Linked DNA regions of Homo sapiens. The protein of the gene in region 1 interacts with the protein of each later gene in a biochemical or structural test. Each region holds a gene or a part of one and is shown on either strand. Other genes may lie near its edges.

What was found. The genes of interacting proteins can lie anywhere in the genome.
Region 2: of the proteins of USP16 (region 1) and CDK1, one has a biochemical effect on the other in vitro, tested with the Homo sapiens proteins (3 studies listed by BioGRID).

The regions. Positions count from the first base shown.
Region 1 is NC_000021.9:29,051,070-29,056,068, reverse strand, and holds the end of USP16 (ubiquitin carboxyl-terminal hydrolase 16), read right to left. Parts: intron 2,268-4,999; coding exon 2,111-2,267; intron 2,004-2,110; coding exon 1,882-2,003; 3' UTR 1,581-1,881; downstream 1-1,580. UniProt on the Homo sapiens protein: Specifically deubiquitinates 'Lys-120' of histone H2A (H2AK119Ub), a specific tag for epigenetic transcriptional repression, thereby acting as a coactivator.
Region 2 is NC_000010.11:60,791,915-60,795,352, reverse strand, and holds the end of CDK1 (cyclin-dependent kinase 1), read right to left. Parts: coding exon 3,300-3,438; intron 3,206-3,299; coding exon 3,064-3,205; intron 1,477-3,063; coding exon 1,378-1,476; 3' UTR 501-1,377; downstream 1-500. UniProt on the Homo sapiens protein: Plays a key role in the control of the eukaryotic cell cycle by modulating the centrosome cycle as well as mitotic onset; promotes G2-M transition via association with multiple interphase cyclins.

The DNA of each region.
Region 1 (4,999 bases):
CCAAATGGGCCTACAAAGCCTAAAATATTTACTATCTGGCCCTCTACAGGAAAGTGCTGCCAACACCTGGACTAGATTTCCAGTGTTTTTGTCACAGCTCTGGAATTCCTGACTCAAGGTGACTTGTTTCAATAGCAATTAATAATTTGTTGAAGACACTCGACTTAGCAAAGTACAAAAAAAATGCTTAGAAAATAGATAAACTGACATACAAAATTAAGTCAGTTTTCATAAAGCAGATTCTATTTTGTTAAAATCAGTAAGGAGTGTTGAAAAAGCCAAGAACATTATAAATAAATTATTATAAATAATCATACTGAATTTTATAGGACATGTGCTACTATATGTGTTGGTTATGTAAGGTCCTTAATACTGTTTGAAATTGTGTGTGTATGTATTTCTTGAGACAGGGTGTTGCTCTGTCGCACAGGCAGTGGTAAAATCTCAGCTCACTGCAACCTCTGCTGTTGGGCTCAGGCAATCCACCCACCTCCGCCTCCTGAAAAGCTGGGGACACAGGCAAACACTACCACATTTGGCTAATTTTTAAGTTTTTTGTAGAGATAGGGTCTCACTATGTTACCCAGGCTGGTCTCAAACTCCTGGGCTCAACGTTTCCTACTGCCTTGACCTCCCAGAGTCCTGGGATTACAAGCATAAGCCACCGCACCAGCCTGTTTTTAGTATTCTTTCCAAGAGATTTTAGAAGCAGTATGACTGACTGGGTATTACATAAACTCAACAGGTGTTTGTTAGGAATGATACAACTCTCATTACTGCCACAGCAAGTTAGAAATGTTCATCGTATGTCGAAGTTGTCCTCAGAGAACCTTTCAAGAAGTTCAGAGACGCTTGGTGTCCCTAAGCTCTTTGTGTTGCATGTAACTCAAACAGTGGCTGACTTGGGACAGTTCACAGGCTTTCTCTGGTATGCTGGTATTAAGGGGTTTGGTACCCAATTATACTCATAGGAGTGAGACTGGTTTGTCTTACATCTGTCCAAAATCAGTTGACCACTGGCACAGAGCAAATACAGAGTAAGGCCTTGTATACCCCAGCTTATGCACACTATGGCATCAGAAGGCTTATAAAGAAACATTGCTCCCATTTATATTCTGCTGTCAATATAGATGCTTATAAAATTAACACACTTGTATGGCCCAGCGCGGTGGCTCAAGCCTGTAATCCCAGCACTTTGGGAGGCCAAGGCAGGTGGATCACGAGGTCAGGAGATCGAGACCATCCTGGCTAACACGGTGAAACCCTGTCTCTACTAAAAATACAAATAATTAGCTGGGCGTGGTGGCGGGCGCCTGTAGTCCCAGCTGCTCGGGAGGCTGAGACAGGAGAATGGCGTGAACCTAGGAGGCAGAGCTTGCAGTAAGCTGAGATCGCACCACTGCACTCCAGCCTGGGCGACAGAGCAAGACTCCGTCTCAAAAAAAAAAAAAAAAAAAAAAAAAAAAAATTAACACACTTGTAATGAAGCTTCATTAGCCAGTCTGATGAAATATTTTTTAAAGTGTTACCTAGTAGGATAAGTCAATAGAAGTTAAAATCTTCCCAGTAATAAAACAAGATTTTAGGGTAAGTCAGTTTATTGATGTGTTGTGATCCATCACCCAGATATATTAAACACAAAGTACTTAAGTAATTCAGGATTTCCTTTCCAGAAACAAAGCAGGAATAAAAACCACTATGACAATATAAAACCTTTGTACATTTTTAGGTATTTTTCCCTTCAATATTTAAATAAACATGATTTCTTCTGGCATGTATTTAATGTTAAGTGAACATGATTTTAATTAGTCTTTTTTTATCGTTATTTCAGCCATTATAAAAGCCATAAATGTGTTTCCAGAAAAAGTGCTTTTGATATTATTACAGTATTCTCTCATAAAATAGGAGGTACGCTTGTGAGTTTAGTACTTTAGTTGTAGGCACAGCTTGCACATGTGTGTCGCTGATGTGAAACCACTGCCCTTTTGATTCCATTTCAAAATCTGTCATGAGAAAATGAAAAATCAAACATAAATGGAAAGATTCAAGTTGATTACTTTTTGGTTTTGCCGTAATCTGCTGAGTGCCTGAATTTTCCAAGACATCTTACCTTGTGGAATATCACCGTGAAGAACAAGATTAGAGAGATGACTATTTGCGGTTCTTGCCTTGGCATAGGCAGTGTAATGCCCCGACCTCATAGTACCACTGTGTTCAACAACTCCATATAAGGAATAGAGTACCCTTGTATTTTCTTCTGCAACATTCTTTAAAAATGAGTAGAATCCAAAAGTTAGTTCTAGTTCCATTTACACAGATGTCATGGGCAAGACAAGTTTACACTATGCAAAGGGTCTTTAACCATTACTTTGAGAGTGCAGAAATCATTCATGAGTCTACTCTTTTCTCCATACCTCTTCTCAGCCTGAGACACTTCTGTTTTTATTATAAATTCACCATTGTTCCCCTGGTAGAAAAGCTGTAAGCCACAGGCCACTTGATGCAGTTACCTGGCTCAGATACCAAATAACTGAATTCAACTTGCCAGTTTCTTTAGGAGCCTGAGGATAATTCTTAACAACCCTAGCTATTAACAACTCTGAATACCCTGTTTAAAAAAAGGTAAGCCCTGAACAGGAAGAGAACAGTATTTTAGGTTGTGCCAAAAATTACCCCTTACATCTTTAAATGTCCCCAAGGGAGTTGGTGAGAAGCACATTCAACCTCTCAAGTGTTCACTTTCCCCACGAGAGAGTGCACGCTGCTTATTCTTTCAGGACTCTATATGCCATAGGGCTGGCAACAGGAACAGGCATTCTCTGGGCCAGGAGCCACTTTTCAGACAACTATTTATGTTCTCATGTAAAAGTCCGTAACAGGCATCACGGCCCTTCAGTAGTACTGTCTCCTATACTCAGCTTCCCAATCTGTGCCTCCATATTCACTGAAGAACTTAGTACTTCTCCGTCCATCTATGATTCTCACAGGACTTTAAATGCCATTCCATTTTAGTCAACCACACCCAGGACTAGAGTCTGGGCTTGTCATCACTCAGAATTGTTCAACTTCATAAAATTTTTTTTGAGACAGGGTCTCACTCCGTCACCCAGGCTGGAGTGCAGTGGCATGATCTCAGCTCAATGCAACCTCTGCCTCCTGGGCTCAAGTGATCCTCCCGCCTCAGCCTCTGGAATAGCTGGGACTACAGGTGCACACCACCATGACCTGCTAAATTAATTTTTTGTAGAGATGGGGTTTCAGCATGTTGCCTGGGCTGGTCTCAAACTCCTGAGCTGAAGGGACATAAATCTTATTTTTAGTCTTAGTCCACAAGTCTTCTATTTATTCAACTCTCATCTCACCTATTCTGTACTCTTTAACCTAACAGGATCTCCAATGCTCATATTCTCCTCACCTATGAAGACTTTTGGCTTCATTCCTGATATGGTTTGGCTGTGTCCCTACCCAAATCTCATCTTGAGTTGTAGCTCCCACAATTCCCACATGTCATGGGAGGGTACCCGTTGGGACGCAACTGAATCATGGGAGCAGGTCTTTCCCATCCTTATTCTTGATAGTGAATAAGCCTCATGAGAGCTGATGGTTTCTTAAGGGGGAGTTTCCCTCCACAAGCTCTTGCTTTGCCCGCTGCCATCCATGTAAGATGTGACGTGCTCCTCCTTGCCTTCCGCCATGACTGTGAGGCCTCCCCAGCCATGTGGAACTGTAAACCTCTTTCTTTTGTAAATTGCCCAGTCTTGCCCAGTATATCTTGTCCAGTATATCTTTATCAGCAGCATGGAAACTGACATAATATAATTCCCATATGCAGTCTAGACCATTGCTATTCAAAATGTGGTCCATGAACAGCCAGCATCAGCATCACCTGAGAGTTTACATTAAACATGCAGAATTTTTGATCCCATACTAGACCTACAGAATCAAAATTTGTAGGTCTGATTCCCACATACACATTAAAGTTTGGGAACTTCAATCACATGTATCACTTACAAATAATCTCCTCCATATCCAATTCATCACAAAACCTCACCCTGAATCCTATAATGTACCTGCCATGCCCCAAACCCAGATGGCCACTACTGCCAAGAAACAAAAGTATAATAAATGATCATGTACCTTGTCATAGTCCTCAATGTGACCATAATCTTATAAATTGTCCTTAGCGGCCTCTTCCATTATGCCCATCACAGCAACTGGCCCAGACTTTTTTTTTTTTTTGAGGGAGTTTCTTGCTCTGTCACCTAGGCAGGAGTGCAGTGACGCAATCTCGGCTCACTGCAGCTCTGCCTCCCAGGTTCCAGCAATTCTCCTGCCTCAGCCTCCCGAGTAGCTGGGATTACAGGCGCACACCACCATGCCTGGCTAATTTTTGTATTTTCAGTAGAGACAGGGTTTCACCATGCTGGCCAGGCTGGTCTCGAACTCCTCACCTCAAGTGATCCACCCGCCTCGGCCTCCCAAAGTGTTGGCATTACAGGCGTAAGCCACCACGCCCAGCCCCAAATTCTTCAACATGGAGATTCTTTGAGATCCTTTGTGGTGTCCTCACTTTCTACCCCTGCCTCTTCCACTCAGATACTTAGGAGGGTCCTGTCATTGGCCATCTCCTTTTTCTCTCTTCAGACTCTATACACAAGGGATCCCATCTTCTCATAGTTTAAACTGCCACATATGTACTGATTTCTAAATCTGTGCCCTGGGCCCATCCTAACCTCTCTGCTATAGGTCTCAGATATGTATATCCAAATGTTTTCTAGACTAAGCACATTAATTTCTCAAAGGTATCTGACACTCAAATGTATCTAAAACTGAAGTCATTATCCTTTCTCTACCTGCTTTTCTCAACCTGCTTTTCTCCCTATATATCCTATCTCAATTTACAGCACTCCCATCTGTCGTGCCAGGCCTCAGGAATCATCCTCAACCCTTTCTCTGCCACCCTCAGCATCCACTTATAAAAGGCCTCTGCCTCACCTTA
Region 2 (3,438 bases), on another chromosome or scaffold:
TCGCAGATAAGGAAACACAGACCTGTAGATATGCCATTATACCATCTCCAATCTTTAGTGTTACCTTTCATTTACCCAATTCCTGCCATGCAATCCTAAACAACCCTCCACAATATAACCCCAAATGACTTACATTAATAAGCTCTACATTCTCTTACAACAAACTGGCTTCCACCAAAGACCACAGAACAGGACAACCAAACCACCAATCTTAAAAGGTCTCGCTGCTGAAGAAAGTGACACACTTTCTTCTAGAGTGCAAAATTTCCAAGACAAGATGGATTAGATAGATCCCTCATTACACATCCAATTGAGTGTAAAAATCGGTAACCCAGGAATGCACATTCTAGCCTGTTAACGAGGAGGAAAAATAGAGGAGATATAGTTGGAAAAAGGATAGAAGTACACTAAAAAAGTAATAAAACTATTGTACACTTCTCTTGATTGCAGCAAATAATTCAAATTAGGCTGCTTATAGGTAAGAATCACAATGAGCAGCATTATTTGTTAAACAGTTTAATTCCCAAAGCTAGTAATTTTAGTTAAATATACATTAGAGCCTTTTTAGATGGCTGCTAATAAACACTATGTCAAAATGTGTAGTTTTAAACTCAGACTCGAAAGCCAAGATAAGCAACTCCTTCAGTTATTACTCTGACCAAGGCATAAGAATTCACTTAGACAAAAAGCTTTCAAAACCTACCTAAAAATAAGATAGTTCATAAATTTTCAAAACTGTTCTTCCCTGTTGCGGACAGCCCTTGATCTTTGTAAGACTTAGCAAATTTTGGCATGCTCTCATGTTAGCTTTTTAAGTTACTGAAAACTCCTATAAATTTAGCATCATTTCTCAAATCTGTATAGTTTTCTCATTCCGAATGCTTAAACATTTAGGTCAAAAATTAAAATACCAGTAGAAAAATATTCATCTTTAGCCAGGTTGTATAGTTAACAACATGGCAAGAAACTGATGAGAACATTTAAACATTCAGAGCATAAAAATACTTCAAAGCATTACGAAACTTGAACTTAGCATTTTCCTAAATTTTAGTAGTTCCAACTACAGGAAAATAAAACTGCCATAAGGACTGAGATGATTTAAGCCAACTCAAATTTTTTCCTGATTCCTGACATCAATATTATAGTTTTATTATAGTAACAAATAGTTGTTACAGTGAGACCTACACACATTTACAGAATTATATTTAAATTCATATAGAATATTTACATTTTTAAGTTATATTTTTGAAATTAGAAGACGAAGTACAGCTGAAGTTTGATAACAAAGAAATATATATAAGACAAAAATAGACAAGAGTTAACAATAAAAACACAACTATCTGTTGATATAACATATGGAAACTTTTTGTCAGAAAGCTACATCTTCTTAATCTGATTGTCCAAATCATTAAAATATGGATGATTCAGTGCCATTTTGCCAGAAATTCGTTTGGCTGGATCATAGATTAACATTTTCTGGGAGAAAAAAGAAAAAGAGATATTTATTTAGGAAATAAACCATTTTTTACAAAAATCTCCATAAAACCTCAACTTTTCTAGCAATAAACCAAAACTAATACTTTCAGTGAATATCTATTAAATGAGCATTTCCATTAGTTTAACACACAAATGTCTCCTCCCCTACATTTCACTCTTGAGGTCTAGAATAACTTACTCTGTAAATCATAGATATTCTCAATAACCTCTTTTTGTTATCAATTACGGTAAGACTCAAGCATCCAGAAATAGCTTTAAAACTGAGACACAAATATAGGAAAGACGTCTAGTTAATTATATTTACATTGAGAATTAAACGGCCACCTGAGTTATTTACAACATTCTTGAAATGGCAATTAACTATGGCAGTTTCTGATGTAGCTTCCAGCAAGTTCCAAAACCCCCCATAGCACAATGTGTTATAAAAATAGCTAAAAATGAGTCACTAAATGAATTATAGTCACACAACTTAGTATGTTAGTTTACGCGCCAGAAAAAGCTAAATAAAGTTTAGGATTGATGTTAAATTTGATCTTTAAGAAATACTAAAATAAAATAAAATCAACAAGCACACTAGAGATTTTTTACTAACTAGTTACCATCTGAACTCTCATGTAACCAGCACCATACAAACTGCTTTGTATAAATCATGGTACTCAATTCCCACAGCTAAAAGTAGGTATTAATGTCATTTTACAAATGAGGACATTGAGGCTCGAAGGGAAGTAACTTGCCCAAGTTCCCAGAGCTAAGGAATAAAGCTCAAATTTGAAACCAAGTTTAATTTACAATAATGGTTCGCAACTGGGATAGACTTTGCCCATCAGGAGACATTTGGCAATATCTGGAGACACTTTTGGTTGTCCTAACTGTGAAGAGTATACTAATGGCATCTAGAGAGTAGAAGACAGTGATGACATGCCACTAAACAAGTTATGATGCACAGAACAATGCCAGCAACAAAGATTTATCCACTCCAAGATATGTCAATTGTGGCTAGACTAAGGAATCTGATTTATAGTATTTGATTTGGGGGAAATCTAAGCTTAATTTTGTGGCATAAGGAGTCTTTACACTCTGAAAGTAACCCGAAGACCAATGAGAAAATGTATACAATGGTATAGCAATAGATCCTTCTGATGGAGAAACTAGGTACAAAGTGCGAATAAAGCTTATTCAGAAGATGGCTTTAATAATTTAAAATATCAACCAATAAGAAAAACACGTCTAGCATAAACTAAGAGGGCTCAATAGTGACAAAAATGCTAGAAAGGAGAGCCACTACAATTCAGCAACTTAAAAAAAAAAATGTGTATTAATCCTGGCTTCTCCCTCAGAATATCCATAGCTACCTGTCAGATAAAAAACAAAAACTAATGCTAAATCCTCCTCTCAAAGCCACTAGTGCCTCCTGATATCTAAAATGAAGCTAGTATAATACAATGTACATAACAGACACCTAGCTCAAAAATGTTAGTGTTCTTCCTATTTTCTAGGCAAAACAAAGAACTGAATATATTCAGAATCATCAATAATTTGAAAGTCAGTATCAAGGGCACTCCTTACCGAGAGCAAATCCAAGCCATTTTCATCCAAGTTTTTGACATGGGATGCTAGGCTTCCTGGTTTCCATTTGGGAAATGTATTCTTATAGTCCTGTAAAGATTCCACTTCTGGCCACACTTCATTATTGGGAGTGCCCAAAGCTCTAAAAAACAGGAAATTAAAAATTTCTTAAAGCATAAATGTAATCTCATTGTTACATATATGTTACCTTTATTATCTCAGTTTTTAATAGCTACCTGAAAATCCTGAAGAGTTGATCAATTTCTGAATCCCCATGGAAAAGTGGTTTCTTAGTTGCTAGTTCAGCAAATATGGTGCCTATACTCCAAATGTCAACTGGAGTTGAGTAACGAGCTGACCCCAGCAATACTTCTG